Linked DNA regions of Homo sapiens. The protein of the gene in region 1 purifies or fractionates together with the protein of each later gene. This does not show direct contact. Each region holds a gene or a part of one and is shown on either strand. Other genes may lie near its edges. The genes, in order: METTL14, SRSF7, EIF4B and NACA.

Region 1 (7,023 bases):
TCTCTACTAAAAATACAAAAATTAGCTGGGCATGGTGGTGCACGCCTGTAATCCCAGCTACTCGAGAGGCTGAGGCAGTAGAATCGTTTGAATCTAGGAGGCAGAGGTTGCAGTGAGCCGAGATCGCACCATTGCACTTTAGCCTGGGTGACGGAGTGAGACTCCGTATTCTTGATAGCTTACTTAAAATGCCTTTAAATGACTTCTTGTCAAGTAATTTGTTTGTTAAAGGAAGCTTAGAAAACTTAGAGTCAGGAAAGGAAGAAAACAAATATTAATTACAGCTTAGCATTCTGAGATACTATTCTTAACAATTTGGAATATGATAATTCATTTCAACCGTTGCTAAGCAGAATAATGTTTTCCTCAGAAATGTATATGAGATCTTTGAAATTGGAGAATTTAGCTTTGAAGGTTTTGTACATTTAATGATATGATAAAATGTATTTTGGGCCGGGTGCGGTGGCTCACACCTATAATCCCAGCACTTTGGGAGGCTGAGGTGGGCGGATCATTAGATCAAGAGATCAAGACCGTCTTGGCCAACATGGTGAAACCTTGTCTCTATTAAAAATACAAAAATTAGCTGGGTGTGGTGGCGCACACCTGTAGTCCCAGCTATTCGGGAGGCAGAGGCTGAGGCAGAAGAGGTGGAGTTTGAACCCAGGAGGTGGAGTTTGCAGTGAGCCGAGATTGTGCCACTGCACTCCAGCCTGGCAACAGAGTGAGACTCTGTCTCAAAAAAAAAAAAAAAAAAAAAAAAAAAATTGTATTCTGTAAGTCATTAGAAGCACCACAGAATGTTTTAGTATGTGGAGAGGAAGTCTAAGTATACTCTAATATTCATCGTATTTTAAAATACACCTTTACTTTCTTGCTTATTTACTTATTTATTTATTTAAATAGAGACAGGGTCTCACTGTCTCTATTTTGAGACCAGGCTGGTCTCAAACTCCTGGGGTCAATTGATCCTCCCACGCTGGCCTCCCAAAGTGTTGGTATTATAGGCATGAGCCACCATGCCTGGCCTAAAATACACCTTTAATGAGATGTTAAGGTGGGAAGATCACTTGAGCCCAGGAGTTTGAGATTGTAGTACTGTATAATCAGGCCTGTGAATAGCCACTGCATTCAGCCTGAGCAATATAGTGAGACCTTGTCTCAAACAAACAAACAAACAAACAAACGAAAACCCATTTACATTTAAAGTATTTTAAATTTAAAATATTTTCATGCTATGTGACAATAACTTTTCAGTAAAGGCCAGTAATAACTTATATTAGGTAGCATGAAAAGACTCTTAATAGAAACATTTTTACTAATGAAAAAACTAATAAAAGAAAACTATATGAAAACTATGTTTTGGGGGAAGAATTTAAAGCTTACAGAGAAATGGGTTTTCTAACTGAACAATTGAGAATAAAACAATGTGATATTCCTTAGAAAATTCAGATGAGAAGGGAAAGGGGTTCAGAGACACATCTGAGTATGGATTTTTAATATTGAGAGAAGAATATATTCTGGGTGTACATGGGGAAAATAGGACTTTTACTATGTAGTTTAATTACGTTCATGTCTTAAGAAAGATCACTGGTAGATCGTTTAAGTCTATACTGAAGAAAAAAAGACTCAATAAAAAGGCCTTTAGTAATTAGGTTACTGATTACTTTGTAAATAGTGTTTAGTAATAATGTTTAGTGATATCTAAGACATTTCTTTCATTACCATCTGTTAAGGTACTTGAAAATCTTATTTAAAAAGCATTTTTTTAAAAACCTCATTTTTAATGCTTTAATCAAATAGGTACTTACAAGCCGATATAGAAGCCTTTGACATCAGAGAACTAACACCCAAATTTGATGTGATTCTTCTGGAACCCCCTTTAGAAGAATATTACAGAGAAACTGGCATCACTGCTAATGAAAAATGCTGGACTTGGGATGATGTATGATCAAACTTTCTACATTGTAATGAATTATTTATTTTCAAATGAATATGTTTATTTGGTCAGAAAGTGAGATAATAAATATCATCCCTACTTTTGTAGGGATTATAAATGTAGATTTATAGTGTAAATTATAGCTGAAGGTCCAAGGTACATTGACTAATATTACATTATCTTTAATTTGAGCCTTCTTTTCAAGGCAAAAATTGAGCAGATAGCAAGTGAATAGGCTGTAGAAGACTTAAAATTTTGGTCTTAGAGTCCTTGGCTATATAGTTAGAGAAGTTTAAAAACAGATGGAATGATTCATAATTCATTCTGCATTTGATTAGTTTCAGTAAACATCAGAGCTTGTTTATGTATATAAAAACATGATTTCTACTCTTTAAACAGCTTACAGTGTAGTAAAGTATGGATAAACACCCTGTATGGACACATAATTACAATTTTGTTGATTAAACGATGGAGTCCTGCATAAGATGACATGAGAGCAACTGACCAGTCCTGGGTAGATGGGACATAGGAACATAGAGGAGGTGACACCTGAACAATATAAATAGATTAGTTGGAATTAGCCAAGAAAGATGTGGGACGGCGGTTACAAGCAGAAGGAACAACAAGAACAGAGGGGATGGAGGCAAACGACTATCTGGTTGTGGGGTGGAGGTCCTGTATGTAGGTTGGTATTGTTGGAACACAGATTGGGACTATCTTGAGGTGATGTGTTAGGAGTTGGGACTTTTATTCTGAAGACGTTAATAAGTCTGAAGAGTTTTAACCAGTTTAGTAAAAAGGTCAGATTGGTGTTTGGAAGCTGGGCTAGAGTCTGGGAAAGAATTCTGGAAAAATGGCCAGGTGTGGTGTCTCATGCCTGTAATCCCAGCACTTTGGGAGGCCGAGGAGGGTGGATCACGAGGTCAGGAGTTAGAGACCAGCCTGACCAACATGGTGAAACCCTATCTCTACTAAAAATACAAAAATTAGCCGGGTGTGGTGGCACGTACCTGTAATCCCAGCTACTCGGGAGGCTGAGGCAAGACAATAGCTTGAACCCGGGAAGCGGAGGTTGCAGTGAGCCAAGATTGCGCCATTGCACTCCAGCCTGGGCGACACAGCAAGACTCTGTCTCAAAAAAAAAAAAAAAAAAAAAAAAATTTTGGAAAAAGGAGAGCAATTAGAAGACTCTTTCTTAGAGTAACCTAATGCTGAGATGAAGGGACGCTGAATTAGGGTAATAGTAGGAATGGAAAGAAGGTGATACATTCAGCAATGTTTAGGAGGTAGATTTAGTAAGATTGAGTGATTGGGATGAGGGGAAGAGTTAAGGATAACTCAGGGTTTCTATCTTGGGATAGGTGGATTGAATTATCACCAACTGAGAGTGAGTTTCAGAAGATGAGCAGGATTAGAGAGGTTAAATAATACTGAACAAGTTGATTTCTAGGTATATGTGAGACATTCAAATGGAAGAGGTCATAGGAATAAAATATGAAACTCTAAGGACAGGCAGATCTGGTTTCAAAATACATATTTTAGAGGATTATCACATAAAATCCATGTAAATAGATGAGTTTATCCTGGGATCGTGTCTCAGGATAAAAATGTGGACTGACAGTAAAGCCGGGAAAACATTTACATTTAAAGACTACATATAAAAGAAATTTAAAAACGAGTTGTTCAGTGATGAATGAAGAGAACCAGGAGAGTATGAATGTAATGGAAACCAAGGGAACAGTGAGTTTCAAGGAGAGTGTAATCAGGACCGTTCTGCATTTCTAGAAAAGATGTGGGGCAAGGAAAGGACTGAAACTGGAAGACGTGTTTCTTAGGAAACGGATTAGAATCTTTGCATGTCCCTTTCTGAGTTAATGGTAGTTACTACTCTTAATAATATCTATTTTTCCAAGATTTACCTCTAATTCTTCCTCTTCCTTGAAACTTTTCCTATTAGCTTTAATACTCCTAGCACTTTTATTTATATTTGTATGGCTCCTATAATGTAAAAGTTTTTCCCCTTCCCTGTTTAAAGTGTTATCTGTGTTTATTGTTGAAAAATCAGAAAAGTGCACAGAATGTGGTATTTCTAAGACTTAAGATTAGAGACTTAATGCTCTTGATATTTCTTGCAGAGAAGTTTTCCAGATAGGTATAAATTTACATTCCTTTCAGTAGTGTTTAAGAATGTCTAGTTAGCCATATCCTCATTAAAGTTGAATATTAATATTAAAAACCATTTTTTATCAGTTTGCTCAAAAGAAAAAATTTAAACAATGAATCTGATTATGTTCTTTATTAATAATTAGGCAGAATTTTGTTTTCTCTAGCCAATCCGTGAGGTTTCAGCAGTGAAGGTACAAGAACTTCAATTATATGTGATAAACTAATACAGTTTTTAAAATAAAGAAATTCTATTTTATATGCAAATTCTTGATTTCAGTTTAATTTCACTGTACTTCAACTCTGGCTGGCATACTGAAAAATTTTGTCTGGCCCCAGAGCCCTAAGTTCTTTAACTTTTATGAGATACCGTCCTGAAGGAAGTGCCAGTAGTTAATGTAATAAACAAAATGTAAATAAGAAAAATGTTTGGGTTTCACAGGTATTCTTTTTCATGTTAGAGAGTCGGTAGTGGTCATTGTGTTTTACTTAAGAACACAAGCATTAAAGTACCAACACTTAACTTTTAGAATTAGTGTCAAAAGAGAATAATTTTTTTTTTTTTGGCATTTGAGACTCAAAGTAGTAATCGTAGCAAAATATGTATATTGATTTATTGAGAAGTTCTTCTGTAGACACTGGATATCACAGTCCTCCCGAAACATTTATTGTTATATTTTAATTTTAATTTTGTCCCTAACATTGGGCTTAGTTAAGTGCTTCATTCTTTTTCAGTAAATGATAAAAGATTGCTGGAGAATCTGTCTCAAGCTCCATCTTAAAAGATTGCATAAGTCTATAGCTATTGTTTCCTATAAGCTCTTTCCATATAACAGCAAGTGTATATATGTATATATGTGCACAGGTGTGTATGTTGTTTGTATATAAAGTAACAAAACAATAGAACGAGTAATTTTAAGGATAACATTTATTTTCTGTTAGTTCCTAATGGAAACTAATACACTTAAAGAACACATCTATCCTAATAAATCTTAATTGTTGTTCTTTTGGATTTAGGATGAATGGGAAACAAAATACTTTTATGCAATATCGTTTTGATTTCTTACAGATTATGAAGTTAGAAATTGATGAGATTGCAGCACCTCGATCATTTATTTTTCTCTGGTGTGGTTCTGGGGAGGGGTTGGACCTTGGAAGAGTGGTAAGATGGTGCTTTTATAAAGTGGATTTTTAAATTAATAAGAAAAAAATGTAACAGTATGTTGCATAGGATGTTTGAAAGTGGATGTTATTTTGTCCTTTGTTTCTTAAATAATTCTAAAATAGTGAGAAAAAAAAAATGTCCAGAAAAGAACGTAAGAAAGGCAATACTTGTAAGTTAGTTTACCAGCACTAGGGAGGAATGTGTAGCTCTTTCAAAAGACACTTCATTACAAGTACAGGAAGAGAACAGCTTAAAGATTTGAAACTCCAAATTATACCTCAAAAATGAGCTGCTTGGTATCATTTACAATTCTTTATGAGTAGCTAAAAAGTGTTCTATGAGTAGCTAAAAGTATTCAGGAGCATTGGCTCCTGAAATCCAAATGGAAGTCAAATAAAATTGGAAAAGTAACACAGCATATGGAAGACATGAATGAATGAGAAAGAAGTTATAATACCTGAACTTATTTTAAGTATCTGATATTTAATTGTATTTCACAGCTTTTTTATTTTTATTTTTTTATTGGAGTTTTTTTTTGTTTTTTTTTGTTTTTTTGAGACAAGGTACCAACTCTGTTGCCCAGGCTGGCGTGCAGTGGCACAATTGTGGCTTACTGTAGCCTCGACCTCCTGGACTCAACTCAAGCAGTTTTCCCACATCAGCCTCCTAATAGCTGGGACCACAGGCACACCACCACCCCTGGCTAATTTTTTTAGTATTTGTAGAGATGAGGTCTTGTTATGTTGCCCAGGCTGGCCCCAAACTCCTGGGCTCAAGGGATCCTCCCACCTCAGCCTCCCAAAGTGTTAGGATTACAGGCATGAGCCACCACCCCTGGCCCTGATTGGCCTTCACCAAAAGGAACAAAATAATATATATGCTGTTTTAAACAAGAATAACAACAGTATTATGACTAGGTATCAGGAGTCTTAATTTTGCTCTCAATTCAGCTGCTATGCTGTAACAGTAAGACTTTGGGCAAAAAGATACTCACTCTTGAGGGTCTCAATTTTGTCACATTTTATTGGTTGACACTTCGTTTTTATGACATATTATTTATTATACACCAAACTATCTCATTTAATGATTCCAATTTGGGGAGGTATCCATTTGACAATTGAAAAATTTAAGTAGGATTATATGAGATAATAAGTATGATTATATGGAAATAAGATTGTGCCCAAATTCTGAAATTCTACAATTACTGTATATTCTTTATATAAATAGTAAGGCTGTTGGGTAACATCATTGCTTCCATCATTTATTAACTCCAAGGTAAACTATAACTGTGTTTCAGTTGGATATCTCCATTTTTTTGGTGTTGGCTCTTCAAGATGCTATAGAAAAGTAAGAGCGAAACATACATGTTTTTATAGGTATATTGGTGTTTACTTTGTTTTAACTTTAATATCTGACTTTGATCTTTCCTTTCATTCCCCAAATTAGATTGAAAATGATTAGAAGGTTTTTATCTTTTTTTTTTTTTTTTTTTGAGGCAGAGCCTTGCTCTGTCGCCCACGCTGGAGTGCAGTGGTGCGATCTTGGCTCCCTGCAAAACTCTGCTTCCCAGTTGAAGCAGTTCTCCTGCTTCAGCCTCCTGAGTAGCCATCCAGGAGGTTTTTATCTTATTTACTTAATGTAGCAGTTTATCATACTGGTGAGAGTTCGGCGAAAAATGATTTAAAAAATAATTCAGCATGAGAAATACTCATGAGATTTTGATAAATTAGTGGATTAGGGCATGTAGAATTTAGGT
Region 2 (7,432 bases), on another chromosome or scaffold:
GCCACCACCCCGTCTGGGAGGTGTACCCAACAGCTCATTGAGAACGGGCCATGATGACAATGGCGGTTTTGTGGAATAGAAAAGGGGGAAAGGTAGGGAAAAGATTGAGAAATCGGATGGTTGCTGTGTCTGTGTAGAAAGAAGTAGACATGGGAGACTTTTCATTTTGTTCTGTACTAAGAAAAATTCTTCTGCCTTGGGATCCTGTTGATCTATGACCTTACCCCCAACCCTGTGCTCTCTGAAACATGTGCTGTGTCCACTCAGGGTTAAATGGATTAAGGGCGGTGCAAGATGTGCTTTGTTAAACAGATGCTTGAAGGCAGCATGCTCGTTAAGAGTCATCACCACTCCCTAATCTCAAGTACCCAGGGACACAAACACTGCGGAGGGCCGCAGGGTCCTCTGCCTAGGAAAACCAGAGACCTTTGTTCACTTGTTTATCTGCTGACCTTCCCTCCACTATTGTCCTATGACCCTGCCAAATGCCCCTCTGTGAGAAACACCCAAGAATGATCAATTAAAAAAAAAAAAAAAAAAGAATAGACTATAGGCCAGGCATGGTGGCTCACACCTGTAATCCCAGCACTTTGGGATGCCAAGTTGGGTGGATCACTTTAGGTCGGGAGTTCGAGACCGGCCTGGCCAAGATGGCGAGACCCCGTCTCTACTAATATTACAAAGATTAGCTGGGCATGGTGGCTCATGCCTATAATACTTTGGAGGCTGGGGCACAAGAATCACTTGAACCTGGGAGGCAGAGGTTGTAGTGAGCCAAGATCGTGCCACTGCACTCCAGCCTGGGCGACAGAGCAAGACTCTGTCTCAAAAAATAAAATTAAAAAAAAAAAAAGACTAGTATTTTTTAGCATAGACTACTTATTTATATTAAAAATAGAATATTGGTGTGGCAGAGGGGGAAGTTGGGGTCCAGGAGGCGGAGTCTGAGGTCTGCCCACTTCTTGCCCTGCCTTAAAAACAAAAAAACAAACAAAATAGACTAATGTGCAAAACATTTAAATTTTTTTTCCTTTCTTGTTTTAACGTTTTCACATCCAAGCTCAAATGGTGATAATGACTTAAAAGTGAAACTGAAATGGTGAGAGAAGTACGATTAAAAAGGGAACTTTTTCTTTAATATTTATCTGGAAATACCAAATGTAGAAAATGCAGATACATTTTGAAAACTGCTGTAAAAGGCTTATGAATTACTCCCCTTTCCTAAACTAATAATATTTTTAAAATTTAACAATAGTAACATGTTAATAACTAATATTTCATATTAGGAAATATTACAATATTTGAAGAAAGTAGTTTTCATATTCAAACAATCTGAGAATGTAATCTAAATTTAACAGATTTCTAGAGGCAGAAACTTATGTGGGTGAATGTGATTTCAACAAGAATCAGCAGGAATAAAAGTTCTCTGCACAGTAAAATCTCCCTGATTTGGACTGACATTTAGTGAAAAGAATTGGTTGCCTGTTCTTAGAGAAAGAGTGTTCAGTAGAAAGTAGAATAGTCTATGGAAATAGTATACAGTACTATTATTTTTTCATGGTAACCAGATTAACAAAGCCTGGCCTTGTACTGGCCCTGCTTTCATAGGAATAAACAGTATGTAATTAGCTTATTGAACACCTGTCTGCAAGACAAGCATGTCTGTGAATCAGGATTTGAAAGCAATTGGTTATAAATTTTAAAACTGCTTCTGTTTACTATTACTTGCTTAGAAATTTCTTTAGTACAACTATAGACTTTGTTTTGTTTTGTTGGTAGAGATGGGGGTCTGGTTCTGTTGCCCAGGCTGGTCTCAAAGTCCTGGCCTCAAGATATCCTCCCACCTCAACCTCCCAAAGTGCAGAGATTACCGGCATGAGCCACAAAACCTGACTTAGACTTTGTATTCAGAGTCAAAAAAAGTTTATTGGAAAAAAAAAAGTTTATTGAGGTTTATTAGGAATTATACAGTATAACATGCACTGTCTTTCAAGCAGTTATCTATGCTTGGCTCAACAGTAATTTTCTTTTTTTTTGAGTCGGAGTTTTGCTCTTTTGTTTTGGAGATGGAGTTTCACTCTTGTTGCCCAGGCTGGAGTGCAATGGCGCAATCTCGGCTCCCTGCAACCTCCACCTCCCGGGTTCAAGCAATTCTCCTGCCTCAGCCTCCCAAGTAGCTGGGATTACAGGTGCGCACCACCACGCCTGGCTAATTTTTTGTATTTTTAGTAGAGACGGGGGTTTCACCATGGCCAGGCTGGTCTTGAACTTCTGACCTTAGGTGATCCGCCCGCCTCGGCCTCCCAGAGTGCTGGGATTACAGATGTGAGTCACAGCGCCCGGCCTAGGAGTTTTGCTCTTGTTGCTCAGGCTGTAGTGCAATGGCAAGATCTCAGCTCACCACAACCTCCACCTCTCAGGTTCAAGCGATTCTCCTGCCTCAGCCTCCCGAGTAGCTGGGATTACAGGCATGCGCCACCACGCCCAGCTAATTTTGTATTTTTAGTAGAGACGGGGTTCCTCCATGTTGGTCAGGCTGGTCTCGAACTCCTGACCTCAGGTGATCCGCCAGCTTCAGCCTCCCAAAGTGCTGGGATTACAGGCATGAGCCACTGCGCGCGGCCTCAACAGTAATTTTCATAGCTTCTTAACAGAAGAAAGTCAACTTAGTGAGGCTTTACAGAATTTATATTTTATCTTTCAGATACCATATAATCTTTTTTTTTGAGATGGAGTCTTGCTCTGTCGCCCAGGCTGGAGTGCAGTGGCACGATCTCAGCTCACTGCAACCTCCGCCTCCTGGGTTCAAGCAGTTCTCCTGCCTCAGCCTCCGGAGTAGCTGGGACTACAGGCACACGCCACCACGCCAGGCTAATTTTTTGTATTTTAGTAGGGACAGGGTTTTACTGTGTTGCCCAGGCTGGTCTCAAACTCCTGAGCTCAGGCAATCCGCCCGCCTCGGCCTCCCAAAGTGCTGGCATTACAGGCGTGAGCCACTGCGCCTGGCCCCTATATAGTCTTTATAATTATTGTTTAATTCTTTTGAGAAGAACCTATAGATCTTTATAATTATTGTTTCTTTTGAGAAGAACCTTGTTAAGAAAAAAATCACCAAGACTAAGGGAGAACACATATACTCTACAGAGCTTCTATTTTCTTCTTAGAGATCTTCCTGAGAGAGATTAATTCTCTCCATAACTTAATCAACGTAAAAAATATGCATAAAATCATAGCATGACCTGGAAAGAATCCATGCTTTATTCACCAACTAGGCCTGCTTTCCCTGTACTCTCCATTCCACACCTATACTCACCAAATGAAGTTGCAAAAGACGAAAAAGATAAAAATGCAAATACCTAAATGTCTTTTTTTATGTACATTTCCAACTTTTGTGTATTCCAAGAATTTACGATGTAATGTCTATGTTTCTAGCAAAAAAGAACTTTTTCTCTATTTGTAGTTGGTGTCTAGAGCAATTCTAATGTAAAGAAGTTTTGCATTTATTTGGTACTGTTGAGTGGCTGAGCAGCAAGGCTGCTATTTCCACTGAGTGGAGATACACAAAGATGACTTAGGAGTCCCAGTCCTCAGGATCGGAGTATTGGTGGATCACACGTGTTACAAAGCAGAAAGCATTAGGAAAAGCAAATCAGTTACTTTGAGCTTCAGATGCAAATAATTTCCAAATTGTCACTGGCCAAAATGCTTTAAACATTCAGGGTTTTGTCACAATTTCAATATAAAGGGGGGAGGGGGGAGCGGGACCCCACAGCTCTATTCCTTTGTCTTTCAGACTCCAAGAACTCAGACCGTGGTGGTGCAAACTGGTGACTGGTTCAAAAGAAGTTGGAGGGGGCGTGTAGGACAGGAGGCTTTACCACCAGTCCCAGGGTGCGTCAAGGTCTATGGTGTAAAAACCACTACTCAGAATGGCGGGGTTCATGGACTTTTCACCATGGCCAAACCTTCGATTACCTCTGATGAGCCCCAAAGATCAGAGTAGCTGACTAGGCCAGGTCCCCCAGCAGAAGGGCGCGACGGCTGCAACATCAGCGGTTAAATTGTACAGCCTTTCATAGGCCGGTCTAATGCATCCGTACTAAGATTGTTAAGGCTGAGGGTCCCTAGCCTGGGGAAAAACGAAAGGAGGCAGAGGGTAGGGAGACGGGAAAGAAGACAAGGAGGGTGTAGAAAACGGGGAGAGGAGGGGGCGGGACAGCATGGGGAAGGCCTCAGGTTTACTGGAGAGATCGTGGCGTTCCCATAGAAACGTATCCCTCCGCCCATGACCCGCGTGTTAGTCTCTTCAGTTCCTTCCGCGTCGTTTCTTGGCTGTTTCCGCCCAGCTCCTTTGTGCCGCGCAGAACAACGAGATGACGCATGCGCAAAGCGCAGCGGCCGCATATATAAACGCGAACCCGGGCTCTTCCTCGTAGTGCCGCCGGGACTCTTGGCGGGTGAAGGTGTGTGTCAGCTTTTGCGTCACTCGAGCCCTGGGCGCTGCTTGCTAAAGAGCCGAGCACGCGGGTCTGTCATCATGTCGCGTTACGGGCGGTACGGAGGAGGTAAGAAGCTGGAGTCCGGTGAGGGACGTTGGTGTGGGTGTAGTGAGCACTGCGAGGCCGTAGGGTTGTCGCGGAGGTTGGGAGACGGTTATTCCGCGTGCGTAATGGCGGCTTAGGAGCACGCCAGACGAAGCCGGAGGCAGCGGAGGCGGGGTGCTGAAGGGAGACGGGATGGCGGGTGTACATCTCTGCCGAGTTCCGTACTCTTGGGCATTTTTGTGGCCCAATCCAGCCTAAAGCAGGGTTGAGATGACGGTTTTCGCGTTGCCTTTCTCGGAGCTGCCCGCCGGCCCCCCTCCCCCCCCGCCCTCGGCGGCGGCTGCCATTTTGCGCACATTGAGGACCGTGGTGGCGCATTTCCTCAGCGCTTTCCCGCCACTTCAGCGGACAGATCTGGCCGCAGCTGTAAGATCGTGGTTGTGTTTGAGATAGAACGAAATTGGCAGCTGTGAGCTGCATGTTCTCGTCAAACAATCGGTTAAATTGCGGAATGGGAATGGGGACGTAATCTGCGACTGGCGGCTGGGTTTTTTTTAGTTATTTCCAGCGCGGTTTATGGCTCTGGGGCGGGGAGCTGGAGTCTTGGGCGAGCCTGTGCCTGGGACGTTTGCCGCGGAGGACGAGAGCCGGCGCAGCCCTGCTCTCCTGGCCCGGCCCCTACCGAGGCCCTCCCGCCGCCGACGCCGCTGCCGCTGCGGGCCCGCGCGCTCCCGGTGCGCCCGGGGCTGCCGGGACTCATGGGTGGGGCCGGGCCAGGTTCCGCCCCACGCCTCGGTGTATCCTACCACGCGTTTCTGCTTGTGTTCGGGAGGGTCACCCCGCATTATTTAGAACGTTAAGAATTTTGTCAAAAGTCTAGTTTCTCAGGGATTTGCGGACTTTCACCAGTTTTACGACTAAGTTTTGTCTTGGATAGAGGGCATTAAATGTGCTTTACCCAATCTTGAGGATGGCCCGTTTTAAGGCAAATAAGTAATTGAAACTTGGGCCAGATTTTGCGTAACGTGCATTCTTCTATTTGCGTTTTTAAACAGAAACCAAGGTGTATGTTGGTAACCTGGGAACTGGCGCTGGCAAAGGAGAGTTAGAAAGGGCTTTCAGTTATTATGGTCCTTTAAGAACTGTATGGATTGCGAGAAATCCTCCAGGATTTGCCTTTGTGGAATTCGAAGATCCTAGAGATGCAGAAGATGCAGTACGAGGACTGGATGGAAAGTAAGTAAGATGTTATGAATCTTCTGTTCATTAAAATATACTGTGGCTAGATAATGAACTTAGTGCTAAATTTGGATTCTGAAGTCTGGAAGAGACCTTAAATAGCTGGTCATAGTGTTAAATGCTAAAGGCACACGAAGGTTAAAGAAGATAGCGGAGATGGAGTTAGGGCTTGGTAAAGACCGCCAAAGTTTGTTGGGGGGGAAGGAGTGGTTGGAAAGAGTGAGTGGTTGGAAAGAGTTCTTTTTAAATCTATAAGTCCTGAATATATTTTTAACTTTAGAATTTTGTTAATTTGCTTTTATTAGGGTGATTTGTGGCTCCCGAGTGAGGGTTGAACTATCGACAGGCATGCCTCGGAGATCACGTTTTGATAGACCACCTGCCCGACGTCCCTTTGATCCAAATGATAGATGCTATGAGTGTGGCGAAAAGGGACATTATGCTTATGATTGTCATCGTTACAGCCGGCGAAGAAGAAGCAGGTATTTATTTTAATAAAGGAATGGTTGGTATTCTAGTTAATCAAGTAATTCTTTTATTAGCAAGGCAGAAACTAGTGTTTTTCTATAAACTTGAATGTTAATTGTACAGGTGTATTTTACAATTTTTGTTTAATTAAAAAAATGTTACTATATTAATAATCAACCTGGTCAAAACCTTTCAGGTTTCTTCGTTTGAGTCAGTCGCCTTGATTCAGAATGTCACGAGCCTTATGATATCATGCTGAGGCGCCTTGCAAATCCGACAATTAAGATCCTCCTAGACCTTGAGGTGATCAGCATAAGAGGCCAGATCCCCTCGAGTCATCTACACCTAGCTTCACCTTATTCTTTAAAGGGCAGAAAATTTGAGACGGTGATCGCCGTAACAGTAAATTTGGCTTACAATTGGGGCCCCCCTCCGGTTTAGAAAGAGGAACACCAGATTGACCACATTCCCAACTAGAAAAATCTTCTTGCGTCAATCAAGCCTCACCTGGCTCATTTGGCTGTCAGTTTGATCGTCGTTAGATTGAAGAAAACATCTAGATGCAGCGATCGGCTATAGATACTTCTAGATCGTCTAGATCTACTAGACCATGGGCCAAAGAGGGTCGACCTGCAAACTTGCAAGGTTTATTTTAAATACACATTACAGTGTTTTATATTATGTAATGCTAAGTTGTAATTCAGCTTTTAACAAATCTTTTTTTAGGTAGTAAAAAAAAAAATACTCAACAACTAATAGGCCCAGAGTTTATTTCCAAATGAGACACTAAATTTAAATAGTTTTGAGATTTGATTTCAGCAGAGGCACACAAACTCTTAAAAACGAGTTATTGTCTGACATTTTGTTTTTTCTCTAACTTGAAAAATAGGTCACGGTCTAGATCACATTCTCGATCCAGAGGAAGGCGATACTCTCGCTCACGCAGCAGGAGCAGGGGACGAAGGTGAGATCTTGTTTAACTGAAGTCTTTCTGTATTATTATTAAATTCACTGGTAGTCCAACACAGAAAAAGCTCATTATTTTTTTTGGAGACAGGGTCTTGCTCTGTCACCCGGGCTGGAGTACAGGGGCATAACCACGACTCACTGCTGCCTTGATGATCTCTTGGGTTTAAGCAGTTCTCCTACCTCAGCCTCCCGAGTAGCTGGGACTGTAGGCA
Region 3 (7,023 bases), on another chromosome or scaffold:
TTGAGACGGAGTCTCTCTCTAGTTGCCCAGGCTAGAGTGCAATGGCGCGATCTCGGCTCACTGCAACCTCTGCCTCCCAGGTTCAAGTGATTCTCCTGCCTCAGCTTCCCAAGTAGCTGGGCTTGCCACCACGCCCGGCTAATTTTTGTATTTTTAGTAGAGACGGGGTTGCACCATGTTGGCCAGGATGGTCTGGATCTCTTGACCTTGTGATTCGCCCGCCTCGGCCTCCCAAAGTGCTGGGATTACAGGCGTGGGCCACTGCGCCCAGTGAAAAAACTACGTTCTTAAAAGCGATTTCCTCAAGCAAGAAGCCTAAAAATAATAGCTAACATTTATTAACCATTTACTCTGTTCCATCAGTGAGCTGAGGGCTTGTACAAGTATTGTTTAATTCTAAGACTTCTGTGTGGTATAGGTAAAATTACAAGTTAGAAAAGTGGAGGCTCAGATGTGGGCCTCATGTTCTCCTTGACTTCTGACCTTTTCCTCTCTCACACTGTCCCTTACCTCCCCACCAAGAGCTGCATACCTAATTTTTTATTTCTCTTCTTGCTCTTACCCCCCCATTCCCTCTAAGATTTGCCCTCTTGTCTCTAGTTGCTGCTGCTACCTTCGTTGAGGCCTCATTGCTGCACCCACGTTACTGGCCATTGCCTCCTAACAGAGTTCCCTTTCTTGCTCCGTTCTTCACATTGGCCCCAGTTGTCAGTTGTCTTTCTGGCATAAGATCTAATTACCTTATTCTCCTGTTTAGACCTGTCTAGTTTCCCCATGGCCTGGAACATAGCCCTTTCTCTATACCTCTGACATACACGGGCCTTCACTGTTTGCCCAGCCTTTACTTTTTTCTTCTTGAGACAGGATCTCACTCTGTCGCCCAGGCTAGAATTGCTGTGACATAATCATGGTTAACTGTAGCCTCAGCCTTCTGAGCTCAAGTGATCCTCCTTCCTCATCCTCCCCAGTAGCTGGGACTAGAGGTGCGTGCCATATGCCTGGCTAATTTTGATATTTTTTCTAAAGATGGGGTTTCTCCACATTGCCCAGGCTGGTTTTAAACTTCCAAGTTCAAGTGATCCACTTGCCCTCGGCCTACCAAAGTGCTGGGATTACAGGCGTGAGCCACTGTGCCCGGCTGCGTTCTTTTATTAATATCTTAAATGAGCTACTTTTTCTGAGCCCCTATTTTATCTTACAAAAGTGACGGGGCTATAACACAGATTTAAAATATGTTTAGGAACATATATAAACTGTCGGCTTAAAGCCCTCGTAGAAAATTTAGATCTTGTTAAACAGTACCCTCTATCTACAGGTACTATGTGCATATGTAGTAAAAGTATAAAATCAAGTGTGGGCATGATGAAGTCACCATCTAGTGGTTATTTAGAGGACAGAGTACAGCTGGTCATGTCATCAGGAGGTTTTACCTCTTTGTTAAGGTTACATTACTTAAGCCAGGTGATTGTATACATAGGCTTTCTTTATATTCTCTGTATCTTTTGTATATCCAAAATATTTAGGACAAACAATCATTTTTAGAAATTTAACTTCCTTGAAACACTTAGGTTTCTCTTGAAAGTGTTCTGACAACTTGAATTGAGGAAGAAATCAGACTGCCTGCCTTAAGAGTTTATTTGTTCAGTGTTACATGCTTTGCCCCATGAACCACCTGCCAAATTTATATTATACACAGAGACAAGGGTATAAGATCTAGAGTCTTCCTGGCTGGGCGTGGTGGCTCACATCTGTAACAGCACTTTGGGAAGCCAAGGCAAGCGGATCACTTGAGGTCGGGAGTTCAAGACCAGCCTGGCCAACATGGTGAAGCCCCATCTCTACTAAAAATACAAAAATTAGTTGGGCATGGTGCCACGTGCCTATACTCCCAGCTACTGAGGAAGCTGAGGCAGGAAAATCAGGGAGGCAGAGGTTGCAGTGAGTTGAGATCACACCACTGCCCTCCAGCCTGGGTGACAGAGCGAGACTGTCTCAAAAAAAATAAAGAACTAGAATCTTCCCTATCATATTGTATTAGTTCTTAACATGCAGATTTCGGAGCAAGATACTTTCATCCAGTAGTTTAATGATGGTCAAAAATTTCTTCCCATATAAAAGAAGTCTTGATAGATTATTAATTTATTACTTAAATGTTTACCATTTTTAGTCTTTCCTGTGGTCTTGTACTACATCATGGATGTGGTAGAAGAGTAATTGAACTTGGGTTTTTTTGTTTTTTTTTTTTTTTGAGATGGAGTTTGGCACTTGTTGCCCAGTTTGGAGTGCAGTGGTGTGTTCTCAGCTCACTGCAACCTCCGCCTCCCCGGTGGGTTCAAGCGATTCTCCTGCCTCAGTCTCCTGAGTAGCTGGGACTACAGGCATGTGCCACCACTCCTGGCTAATTTTGTATTTTTAGTAGAGATGGGGTTTCTCCATATTGGTCAGGCTGGTCTCGAACTCCTGATCTCAGGTGATCCGCCCGCCTCAGCCCCCCAAAGTGCTGGGATTACAGGCGTGAGCCATTGCGCCCGGCCAGAACTTGGTTATTTATGCCACCTATTTTTATTTTTATTTATTTTTATTTATTTATTTTAGGCGTAGTTTTGCTTTTGTTTTCCAGCCTGGAGGGCTGGAGTGCAGTGGTGCGATCCTGGCTCACCACAACCTCTGCCTCCCAGGTTCAAGCGATTCTCCTGCCTCAGCCTCCCGAGTAGCTGGGATTATAGGCATGCACCACCATGCCTGGCTAATTTTTTATTTTTACTAGAGACGGGGTTTCTCCATGTTGGTTGTGTTGGTCTCGAACTCCCGACCCCAGGTGATCCACCCGCCTCGGCCTCCCAAAGTATCGGGATTACAGACGTGAGCCACCACGCCCAGCCTGAGCTACCTATTTTCTTTTTTTTTTTTCTTTTTTTTATTTTTGAGACGGAGCCTTGCTCTGTCACCAGGCTGAAGTGCAGTAGCTCGATCTTGGCTCACTGCAACCTCTGCCTCCCAGGTTCAAGCAATTCTCTTGCCTCAGCCTCCTGAGTAGCTGGGACTACAGGTGCGCGCCCCAACGCCCAGCTAATTTTTGTATTTTTAGTAGAGACGGGGTTTCACCATGTTGTCCAGGATAGTCTCGATCTCTTGGCCTTGTGATCCACCCGCCTCGGCCTCCCAAAGTGCTGGGATTACAGGCGTGAGCCACCATGCCCAGCCTAAACTACCTGTTTTCTAATGATCTATTTGCCTTCTGTGGATTGGTTAGGCCACTAACTTGAATCTCATGTAGCATTTCATAGGAGTTATATCTGAGAAATCTGGCTTTCAGCCATCAGCTTCTGGTGATTGGAAAACTATTACTTAAAGTTTCATTTAACTTAGGTCCCCCCCAAAGACCCAAACTGAATCTAAAGCCTCGGAGTACTCCTAAGGAAGATGATTCCTCTGCTAGTACCTCCCAGTCCACTCGAGCTGCTTCTATCTTTGGAGGGGCAAAGCCTGTTGACACAGCTGCTAGAGAAAGAGAAGTAGAAGAACGGCTACAGAAGGAACAAGAGAAGTTGCAGCGTCAGCTGGATGAGCCAAAACTAGAACGACGGCCTCGGGAGAGGTGTGTTGTCTTGATGGATATCCCATCTAGGAATCCGGTGGTTCGTAATGGGGGCATTACATCCCCAGGGGCATTTGGGAAATTTGTGTCGTTATCACATTAGTGGTTGTCACTGATGGGCATTTAGTGGGCTGTGGCCAGGGGTGTTAGGCAGTATGCAGTGTTAGGGACAGTTTTACACAATGAAGAGTTGTTCCCTGTCCATTACAAAAGTGTTTACTATTAAAAGCTGGTATTGTATCTAAAAGGCTAGAGACCTACTATAATAAGTAATTGCCCTGAAAAACTAGGCCTGGTAATGAGTGGCTTGTAGAACTGTGTTGATTAGTAAAGAAGGGCAGTATTGTAGATTATGTAGGATACTGTTCTTAACCATATTAGTTGATTCTTGCTGAAGTATTTAGGGCCAAAGTGTGTCTTAATGTCTGTAGCTTTCAAATAGTTTGAGGGAAAGATAAATTTATATGCATATACACATATAGATGAAGTAAGTGATGGTTCTTGAGGGGTCAGCATGGGTCTAAGGTGGCCTTCACTGAGCCAGGCATAATGTGTATTTTGTGAATCTCTCGTACAGACACCCAAGCTGGCGAAGTGAAGAAACTCAGGAACGGGAACGGTCGAGGACAGGAAGTGAGTCATCACAAACTGGGACCTCCACCACATCTAGCAGAAGTAAGTCAGACCAGGGTGGGTATCGTGTTATTGCCGTTTTCCATAAACTATCCATAACCAAATTATGCAGAGACCCTGCAATATTTAAATTCAGTCATGAACTCTTTATTTGGGTTGCATGGGCCGATTGGAGTTTCATATCTTCTGCTCCAAAGAATCTGAGGAATGGGTACCAGAGTAGACCTAGATGATCTGCTTAATAATCTACCACTGAAGTGTATACTTGGTTGTTAGGTTTGTCTCTCTCTTTTTTTTTTTTTTTTTTTTTTGGTATATTTTCATTTTATGTCTTGACATCTTTGAATGTTGTTTATTCAGAACAGTCAACGGCTTGGAGTTTCATGTGAGCTGTCCCAAGACCAGCCTTTTTTGATGTTATCATCACCAGAGCAGTGTTCTCAAGCAGTGTTATTACTGGTTGATCAAGCACTTTTAGTGTTTTGGAAACCTAAATGGTTCAATTGTAATACCTCCCTTCCCTTACCATGATGTGTTTTTTTTGTATTTTGTTTTGAGACAGGGTCTTACTCTGTCACACAGGCTGGAGTGCAGTGGCATGATGATGGCTCACTGTAGCCTCACCTCCCTCAGCCCTCAGCCTCCCTAGTAGCTGGAACTGTAGGCATGCACCACTACACCCAGCTAAATTTTTTATTTATTTATTTTCTTTTTTTTTTGAGACCGAGTCTCGCTCTGTCGCCCAGGCTGGAGTGCAGTGGCGCGATCTCGGCTTACTGCAAGTTCTGCCTCCCGGGTTCATGCCATTCTCCTGCCTCAGCCTCCCGAGTAGCTGGGACTACAGGTGCCCACCACCACACCCAGCTAATTTTTTGTATTTTTAGTAGAGATGGGGTTTCACTGTGTTAGCCAGGATGGTCTCAATCTCCTGACCTCATGATCCACCCGACTCGGCCTCCCAAAGTACTGGGATTACAGGCGTCAGCCACCGCACCCAGCCTACACCCAGCTAAAATTTTGTAGAGATGGTTTCCCCATGTTGCCCAGGCTGGTCTCAGCCTCATAAAGTGCTGGGATTCCAAGGGCCAGCCACTGTGATATTTTTTAAGGTCTTTCCTCCCACCTCTAAATTGATTTGTACTTGCATTTCATTCATTTATTTATTTATTGAGATGGAGTCTCGCTCTGTTACCAGGCTGGAGTGCAGTGGCACGATTTTGGCTCACTGCAACCTCTGACTCCCTGGTTCAAGCAATTCTCCTGCCTCAGCCTCCTGAGTAGATGGGATTACAGGTGAGCGCCACCATGCCCGACTAATTTTTTGAACGGGCTGGTCTCAAACTCCTAACCTCATGATCCACCCGTCTCGGCCTCCCAAAGTGCTGGGATTACAGACGTGAGCCACCATGCCTGGCCTTCTATTTTTTTTATTTTTTATTTTTGTATTTTATTTATTTATTTTGAGACGGAGTTTCGCTCTTTTTGCCCAGGCTGGAGTGCAATGGCATGATCTCAGCACACTGCAACCTCTGCCTCCCGGGTTCAAGTGATTCTCCTGCCCAAGCCTCCCGAGTAGCTGGGATTACAGGAGTCTGCCACCAGGCCTGGCTAATTTTTTGTATTTTTAGTAAAGACGGGGTTTCACCATGTTGGCCAGGATTGTCTCCATCTCTTGATCTTGTGATCTGCCCGCCCTGGCCTCCCAAAGTGCTGGGATTACGGGCGTGAGCCGCCGTGCCCGGCCTAGTTTTTTATTTTTAAGACAGGGTTTCATTCTCACCCAGGCTGGAGTGCAGTGGTGCGATCATAGCTCACTGCAGCCTCAAACTCCTGGCCTCAAGCAATCCTCTTGCCCCAATATCCCAAGTAGCTGTTATACGACGGGTGCACGCAACCATGCCTGGCTAAATTTAAAAAATTTGTTTTTTTAGAGATGGGGTCTCACTACACTCCCCAGGCTGGTCTCAAACTCCTGGCCTCAAGCAATCCTGCCTCAGCCTCCCAATGGGGGCTCCTTGTTTTTAGAAGACACTTAACTGCATTTTTTAAAAAACGCACGTGTAGGTTGTTGTTTTTTGAGATGGAGTCTCACTCTGTCAGCCAGGCTGGAGTGCAGCAACATGATCACAGCTCACCTCATCATTTCTAGTAGCTGGGACTGCAGGCACATGCCACATCCAGCTAATTTGTCTATTTTTTGTAGAGCTGGGGTTTCACCATGTTGTCCAGGCTGGTCTGAAACTCTTAGGCTCAAACGATCCGCCCCCAACAGCCTCCCAATATCCTAAGATTACAGGCGAGAGCCACTGCACCCAGCCAGTAGGTGGTTTTTCATAAATATGATTGCATCATAGTCCATGTGTGTTGAGTTTTAAGCTGAAGTTGAGCAGTGGTTACTAGAGTTTGGGGTTTCATTGTAGGTCCTCTTCACATATGTATATTCTCCAGGTCAAGACACTTTTAACATTGAGAATGCAGAAAGGCTGTAAAGGATACTCATTCCTAAAAAGGTCACATGGCTGGGTGTCCCTTAAGTTGTATACATGGTCATTATTTTTTCTATTTCTCTGTGCATCAGTAAGACATTGTTCTGGAAATACTTGTAAACCACTGGTTTAGGGATAAATCCATCTTTGGGAGCCAAAACTTGGATGTGGACCATTTTCCACACTGTTGAGATCCTGGTAGATGCGTGAGCATCTGCAGCCTGATAATTTGATATTTTCACTCTGGCTTCACAGATGCACGAAGGAGAGAGAGTGAGAAGTCTCTAGAAAATGAAACACTCAATA
Region 4 (7,461 bases), on another chromosome or scaffold:
CAAGATGAATTAGACATGAATTAGACCTCCAGGCAGAGAGCTTACTCACAAGGGTAGGGACTGTATTATGAAACTGTAACCTAACTTGTTAAACCAGATTGTGGTGCTATTTTGGAAGAAGAGAATTGGAGAGCCTGTAACAGTGGCTCATGCCTGTAATCCCAGCACTTCGGGATGCCTGGGAGGGCGGATCACGAGGTCAGGAGTTCCAGACCGACCTGACCAACATGGTGAAACCCCGTCTCTACTAAAAATACAAAAATTAGCTGGGCGTGGTGGTGTACACCTGTAATACCAGCTACTCAGGAGGCAGAGGCAGGAGAATGGCTTGAACCCAGGAGGTGGAGGTTGCAGTGAGCCAAGATCGCGCTACTGCATGCACTCCAGCCTGGGTGACAGGGTGAGACTCCGTCTCAAAACAAAACAAACCAAAGAAGACAATTGGAGTGGCGAGAATACACTGGATCCCCACTCCTTAACTTGGAATTTAAGTGTTTCATTATGTCAAAATACACCAATGTTTGGCATGACAGTAAGACAGTATCTCTGGCATTCAGGAGGTAACACAGAATTGGATCAACAAATGCTCAATGCTTAGAAGGGAATGTTAAGGGGGGCGGGGGGGAAGCCCGTGGTACCAAAATTCAAATTCAAAATTCACTCAACCAGTAATTCTGAAGTTCTTATGGCATCCTACCATGGAAAAGACAAGGTGGCTCAACTAGTTTTTCCTGGAGAGTGGGTAGGCCAAAGTCTAACGATTACAGGAAAACGCTACCAAACATAATGAATCAGAATTAAAAACATGGAATATGTTTTCTTCTGACTGGACCTCAAATGGAATAAGCACTCAAATACTTGCTTTGACACCATCAACAATTCCTTGAGCTTCCTTCTTCATTCTAATAGACTATCATTACAGATAAAACCTTGTGTATTTATCATTGGTACTTCCTTAATATAAGCCTACTATGCAACTCAGACTATTCAGGAATACGTTTAATAGCATTAAGGACTGTTTCAGAAGTAAATGCATTAGTTTTGAAGCTTGAATCAGATTATTCTAAATTCATCTGAATTTCAAATCTTCGTATTTGTAAAATTAAGTTGTTCAATGACACAATCTCTAAAATCTCGTTTTGTACTGAAATTACAGAATCTTTAGAGAACAGTACTTTATTTTTTCCCTTCCTTAAGCCCCTTGTACTTCAAGAATTTCATATTGTTTATACTCCAGCTTAGAGCCCCCTATTGTCCTTCCTAGCAGCTGTATTAATCCCTTCAGCTGTTAAAATCAAACAGGTGGGAAGAAACTTTATGCTTTCAACTATAAGCAACTCTACTGTAACTCCAAAAAGGGACAGGAATTGCCCTTAAATAACAAATGAAATTTAAAAAAAACCAAAAAGGTGAGAATGAAAATTACAGCCTGAAGATTTCCTTCATTTAACGCTGCACAACTGACTCAGAAAGGCTATCATTTTAAGAACTTTTCATTACCTCCTCCTAAGTTTTCTACAGAGATATGTTTTAACCAGAATTTAAAATTAGCCTTCACAGTCGTTAATTTCGACGCTGAGGATAAAAGGATTTATTTCAATCCTGGGTTTCACACAATGATGCAGGAACTATTCCAGCACACTAGAAGTATCTCAGCACCACCAACCCATAAACAAGTTATCCGACCTAGGACGACTCTGGGGCCCAGTAGGACACATTTACCACCAGCACACATCTCATCCAGACATGTGATAAAGGCACAATGCCAAGCTCTGCTAACTAAAACCTTGATGCAACTTGCTGGCTGGAGTTTCACAAATGCTCCGGGCTCCTTGGCCTGTGTCATCTAGTTCCAATAGGTAAGAATCACTGAGCCCATTCCCTGCTGAGTTTTCCTATGTGAGGTGGGGGTTCCACAGGAGAGCTTCTTTTGAGGCGACAGGCATAACATAGAAAGCAAGCTAGGGTACTTTTAACGTCCACGAATCTTAAAAATATTATTTTTACTCCAAATCCCTAAAGAAGTATCTCCAGGATAGTAATTTTACGGTCTATCCTCCTTGGTAAAGCTGCAACCCCATCCTCCTAAAAAGTGTATTTCCCCTTGGTCATTTTGCCCACCAAATGGCTTTAGGGTTAATTTTAATTAATGGCAAGGAGGGTAGGGAAACCTACCTGTCTCAGCCTGGGGCTGCGGCAACTCCTGCTCTGTAGCAGGGACGGTTTCTGTGGCTTCGCCGGGCATTTCTGAAGGAAGGGAATAAAAAGGAGGCCTAAATTGATTGGGATACATTCACTTGCCCAACCCGGAGATAAGTATTCTTAAAAACTCCGAGGAGGGCTGTTAGAAAAAAATCGTGAGGGTGTTTGGTGACAACCTTCCCCAAAGCACCTGGGAATAAGAGGTAAATATGATGTGACCCTCACGCCTCTATCAAGGCCAGCAATTCCCACTGCATTCTCAACCCGAGGGAGAGGATCCCGGGCTGGCTCTCGATCATGGGAGACTTCAGACGCTACTGTGAACCCCCTCCACTCCTAATACTCACACTGGCTGGGCTGGGGCCTCCTGGACTACGTTTGCCGACTTTGGGGTACCAGGAGGGGAAAGACGGTGTTTTAAGTCCAACACTTGCTTGTCACAGGGAGAACGGTGTTACAGGTTCTAAGGCTGTGACCCCTTACCCTTTTCTGGATCCTGTGAAGCAGTTCCCAAAACAAGACGCACTCCTCTTCCGCCCTCAACACTGCAACTGCTCCCATCTCTGCAGGCTCGGATTCTGGGCCCGCCCCGCAGCCCTTCTACCCTGCTTTTGCCAGGACACCAACCGCAGACCCCATTTTGTCCGGAGGCCCAGGGGCGAGTAGGAACCCTGTGGCCCAGTAAAGCCTCCAACTCTCCTTAACTCTCAGTCCCCGGGGCGGCTTAGCCCGAAAGAAAGGCGGATGGCTGCGGATAGACAGTAGCGGCACAGAAAGTACTTACTGTGCAGGGAACGCGGAACCAAGATGGCGGCAGAAAGACCGAGCGAGAGCGTGACCCACGCCTGTTGCAGAAGGAAGCCTGGAGCGGAGGGGGTGGGACTAGGATCCGATTCCGGGTCAAGAGCTGCCGGCAGCCACTTCCTTTGACGAGTGACTGTCAGGCCGTTCCCACGGCGGGGGTGGTGACAAGGACTAAAGGGTAAGAATTTAGAACGGGACGCGCAGGCCTAGCAGGAGCTCTCTGCGCGGACCCACGCAGTCCTCAGAACTAAGCAGACTCCGCCCTCCGGTCCGCGAAGTGGCGACTGCGGTATTAAGTCGACCTCGCGATTTCTCAAATAGTGCAGGAAGAAGACATTAAATAGCGAATGCTAGAGACTGCATTCACAACATTGGAGGGTGGAAGTGACTTAGGCTAACCAGTTATTTTTGGAACACACGATGTGAAAACATTTAAAAGCTGCTGGACCCTCTCCCCCCCCATCAACAACAACAAAAAAACCCATTTTAAAACTTGAGAGATGTGATGGGTCACATATAACTTCAGTTCAGATTATAAATTTAATTCGATTTTTCTTGTTCTGTTCAATGACTAGAGAGACTCAAACGATGTCACCAGATGACAGCAACTCATGCGTGTTAAACTCTTCGTAAAACAATGTTAGCTGTACCCCCGCCCCCCCCCCAAAAAAAACACTTCTTGTAACCAAATTCTGTAATTATGTTCCAACCTTGTATGGATAACGTAATCCAGCTAAAAACTCCTCTGTCTCCCTAAATAAATGAAATCGTAACTTCTCTACTTCTGAAGGCTGACTCCATTCTTTGGAGGTTTTCTGGTTGGTCCATCCTCACACTGCCCTTGAATAAACTCTTTAAATAGATTCCGGCCCTTTTGATTGTTTTAGGTTCACGACAATTTAGCCGATGTTGAAATTATAAAGCTGCAGATTCTCCTTCCCAGAAAAAAAGAACATAGGCACATATACAATTCCTTTGCTTGCTATTTTGGGCACTTCTTGGATTTTTTTTTTTTTTTTTTTGAGTCGCTCTGTCGGCCAGGCTAGAGTGCAGTGGCACGATCTCGGCTCACTGCAATCTCCGCCTCCAGGGCTCAAGCAGTTGTCCCGCCTCAGCCTCCCGAGTAGCTGGGATTACAGGTGTGTGCCACCACCCCCGGCTAATTTTTTATTTTTAGTAGAGACGGGTTTCACCATGTTGGCCAGGCTGGTCTTGAACTCCTGACCTCAGGTAATCCGCCTGCCTCGGCCTCCCAAACTACTGGGATTACAGGCGTGAGCCACCATGCCCAGCCTGTTTGTTTTGTTTTTGGGACAGTCTCACTTTTATTGCCCAGGCTGGGGTGCAAAGGCACGATCTCGGCTCACTGCAACCTCCCCTTCCCGGGTCAAGCGATTCTCCTGCCTCAGCCTCCCGGGTAGCTGGGATTACAGGCATGCGCCACCACGCCAGTCTATTTTTTGTATTTTTAGTAGAGACGGGCTTTCTCCATGTTGGCCAGGCTGGTCTCCTCCTGACTTCAGGTGATCCGCCTGCCTCGGCCTCCCAAAGTGCTGGGATTACAGGCGTGAACTACCGCCCCTGGCACTTCTTGGATATTCTAAGCTTATTTATTCTAGGTGTCTGGGACCCCACCTTAAACCATGCTTTGTACAACTGTATTTTTGAAAAGTAGAATGTAAAATCAGTGTTGTGTTAATGAAAAGCCTCCCATATCTTCCCACAGCCCTACAAAAGAACTCAACAAATATTTGCTGTACCTGAATTAGCTAAACCAGTCAACATTTATTTATTTTTTGAGGCGGAGTCTCGCTCTGTCGCCCAGGCTGGAGTGCAGTGGCGCGATCTCGGCTTACTGCAACCTCGGCCTCCCGGGTTCAAGCGATTCTCGTCTCAGCCTCCAGAGTAGCTGGGATTATAGGTACCCGCCTCCCCGCCCGGACTCCTGACCGTAGGTTATCCGCCTGCCTCAGCCTCCCAAAGTGCTGGGATTACAGGTGTGAGCCACTATGCCTGGCCTGATTTAATAGCTTTAAGACGACTGTGGCCACCTTTTTTTTTTTTTTTTTTTTGAGACGGAGTCTCGCTGTCACCCAGGCTGGAGTGCAGTGGCGCGATCTCAGCTTACTGCAACCTCCACCTCCCGGATTCTGGCAATTCTCCTGCCACAAAACTTCTCCTGTTTCACCGTGTTGCCCAGGCTGGTCTCGAACTCCTGAGCTCAGGCAATCCACCCGCTTCGGCCTCCCATAGTGCTAGGATTACAGGTGTGAGCCACCATACCTGGTGTGGCCGCCTTTTAAGGGAAGCAGTGAAAATTTAAAATGCTTTGAAAGCTACTTTAACATTTCTGAAATCCTTAGCGTAGTGAAATGAGGATTAGGATTGGTGAATTAAAATTAAGTGAGATAGTGGGGTTTACCAGGAATGGGAAATTCTGAAATCCTCCTCAAATAGGAGAGGCAATATTGTGGAGTCATTAAAGACAGACTCTGAAATAAGACTCCTTTGTCTAAATCTATTAGGTCAGTTTAGGCAATTAACCTATATATATATTCATGTCAGTTTCCTGATCTGTAAAATGGGAAAAATAGTAGCTGCTTGATAGGATTGTTTGGAAGATTAAATTAGTCTGTGTGTATATATACACACACACACTCACACTCTAATTGGAAGGAAAAAGAAACAGTCTATCTCATAAAATTATCCCATGTAATCTTTACATAAAACTTAAAAAGTTTGTTACTATTAAATTGTAGACATAATCAATTTCTACCTAATAAATACATGATCTGGAAGATTTTCAATGCAGTCCTTTAGTCCATTTACCTTCAGAAGGACCAGAAATAGCCAATTTCCTTAGACAAAAGTACATATTCACAATTTTTCTTTCTTCCCCAGCAAGCCCACTTACTTTTTCCTCTCTCTGTAGTAATGACTAGCCAAGGAAGGATGTATTTTTTTTTCCTTTTTTTTTTTTGAGACAGGGTCTGGCTCTGTTGCCCAGGCTAGAGTACAGTGGGGTGATTATGGCTCACTGCAGCCTCCGCCTCCTGGGCATAAACGATTCTCCCACCTCAGCCTCCCGAGTAGCTGGAACTACAGGCACACAACACCACACCCAGTTAATTTTTGTATTTTTTGTAGAGACGGGGTTTTGCCATGTTGCCCAGGCTGGTCTTGAACTCCTGGCCTCAAGTGATCTGCCCACTCTGCCTCCTAAAATGCTGGGATTACAGGTGTGAGCCACCACACCCGGCTAGCGTGTTTCTTAAGTTGGCAATTTTGAAGATAGAAGCCATTTCTTTGCCCCTTTGTTTCTACAGTTCTAATATGTGACTGAATTGGCAAATCAAGAAAAGGGGAAGTCAGTAGTCCTTGGGTATATTTTTGCTGTCTTTAAGAACTAAACATTGGCTGGGCGCCGTGGCTCACACCTGTAATCTCAGCAGTTTGGGAGGCCAAGGCAGGTGAACTGCTTAACTCAGGAATTAGAGACCAGCCTGGGTAAGATGGCAAGACCCCGTCTCCACAACAAAATAAAACGTAAGCCTGGCAAGGTGGCGCATATCTGTAGTCCCAGCTACTCCAGAAGCTGAGGCACGAGGATCCCTTGAGCCCAGGAGTTAAGGCACTTCAATGCTAGACATATTTATAAAATGATAATGAAAGCTGAAAATGTCTCTTTTTGAGGCCGGGCGTGGTGGCTCACGCCTGTAATCCCAGCACTTTGGGAGGCCGAGGCGGGTGGATCACGAGGTCAGGAGATCGAGACCATCCTGGCTAACACGGTGAAACCCCATCTCTACTAAAAATACAAAAAATTAGCTGGGCATGATGGCACGCACCTGTAATCCCAGCTACTCACGAGGCTGAGACAGGAGAATGGCGCGAACCTGGGAGGTGGAGTTTGTAGTGAGCCGAGATGGCGCCACTGCACTCTAGCCTGGGCCACAGAGTGAGACTCCGTCTCAAAAAAAAAAAAAAAAAAAAAAGTCTCTTTTTAAAAGCATACCAGTCTTTCCACTCTCCTTCTGAGTTCTTTACTGATTAGTTCTGGAATAATGAGTCTCTAGTAATTTTGTATTCAGGAGTTTTAATCGACCCACTGTTTCTAGAACCTGAAGACTTAATAACCTATAGTACACATAAGCTCAAATAATGAAGAGTTTTTGGGCCAGGTGAGGTGGCTCACACCTGGGAGGCCAAGGCAGGTGGATTGCCCAAGCTCAGGAGTTCGACACCAGCCTGGGCAACATGGTGAAAACCTGTCTCTACTAAAAATACAAAAAATCAGCTGGGCGTGGCGGCGTGCACCTGCAGTCCCAGCTACTCGGGAAGCTGAGGCAGGAGAATCGCTTGAACCTGGGAGGTGGAGGTTGCAGGGAGGCGGATTGCTCCACTGCACTCCAGCCTAGATGACAGAGTGAGACTCTGGCTCAAAAACAAACAAAT

The links.
Region 2: the proteins of METTL14 (region 1) and SRSF7 purify together in Homo sapiens (affinity purification with mass spectrometry; 2 studies listed by BioGRID and IntAct, with this or other methods). This does not show direct contact.
Region 3: the proteins of METTL14 (region 1) and EIF4B purify together in Homo sapiens (affinity purification with mass spectrometry; 2 studies listed by BioGRID and IntAct, with this or other methods). This does not show direct contact.
Region 4: the proteins of METTL14 (region 1) and NACA purify together in Homo sapiens (affinity purification with mass spectrometry, with the first as the bait; 2 studies listed by BioGRID). This does not show direct contact.

The regions. Positions count from the first base shown.
Region 1 is NC_000004.12:118,695,379-118,702,401, forward strand, and holds part of METTL14 (N(6)-adenosine-methyltransferase non-catalytic subunit METTL14), read left to right. Parts: intron 1-1,803; coding exon 1,804-1,945; intron 1,946-5,171; coding exon 5,172-5,264; intron 5,265-7,023. UniProt on the Homo sapiens protein: The METTL3-METTL14 heterodimer forms a N6-methyltransferase complex that methylates adenosine residues at the N(6) position of some mRNAs and regulates the circadian clock, differentiation of embryonic stem cells and cortical neurogenesis.
Region 2 is NC_000002.12:38,748,362-38,755,793, reverse strand, and holds the start of SRSF7 (serine/arginine-rich splicing factor 7), read left to right. Parts: upstream 1-4,432; 5' UTR 4,433-4,537; coding exon 4,538-4,565; intron 4,566-5,599; coding exon 5,600-5,780; intron 5,781-6,088; coding exon 6,089-6,265; intron 6,266-6,447; exon of another isoform or gene 6,448-6,861; coding exon of another isoform or gene 6,862-6,896; intron 6,897-7,140; coding exon 7,141-7,215; exon of another isoform or gene 7,216-7,274; intron 7,275-7,432.
Region 3 is NC_000012.12:53,030,437-53,037,459, forward strand, and holds part of EIF4B (eukaryotic translation initiation factor 4B), read left to right. Parts: intron 1-3,369; coding exon 3,370-3,598; intron 3,599-4,175; coding exon 4,176-4,273; coding exon of another isoform or gene 4,274-4,288; intron 4,289-6,972; coding exon 6,973-7,023. UniProt on the Homo sapiens protein: Required for the binding of mRNA to ribosomes. Functions in close association with EIF4-F and EIF4-A. Binds near the 5'-terminal cap of mRNA in presence of EIF-4F and ATP.
Region 4 is NC_000012.12:56,722,277-56,729,737, forward strand, and holds the start of NACA (nascent polypeptide-associated complex subunit alpha), read right to left. Parts: upstream 3,024-7,461; 5' UTR 2,987-3,023; exon of another isoform or gene 2,686-2,986; intron 2,274-2,685; exon of another isoform or gene 2,248-2,273; 5' UTR 2,246-2,247; coding exon 2,176-2,245; intron 1-2,175. UniProt on the Homo sapiens protein: Cardiac- and muscle-specific transcription factor. May act to regulate the expression of genes involved in the development of myotubes.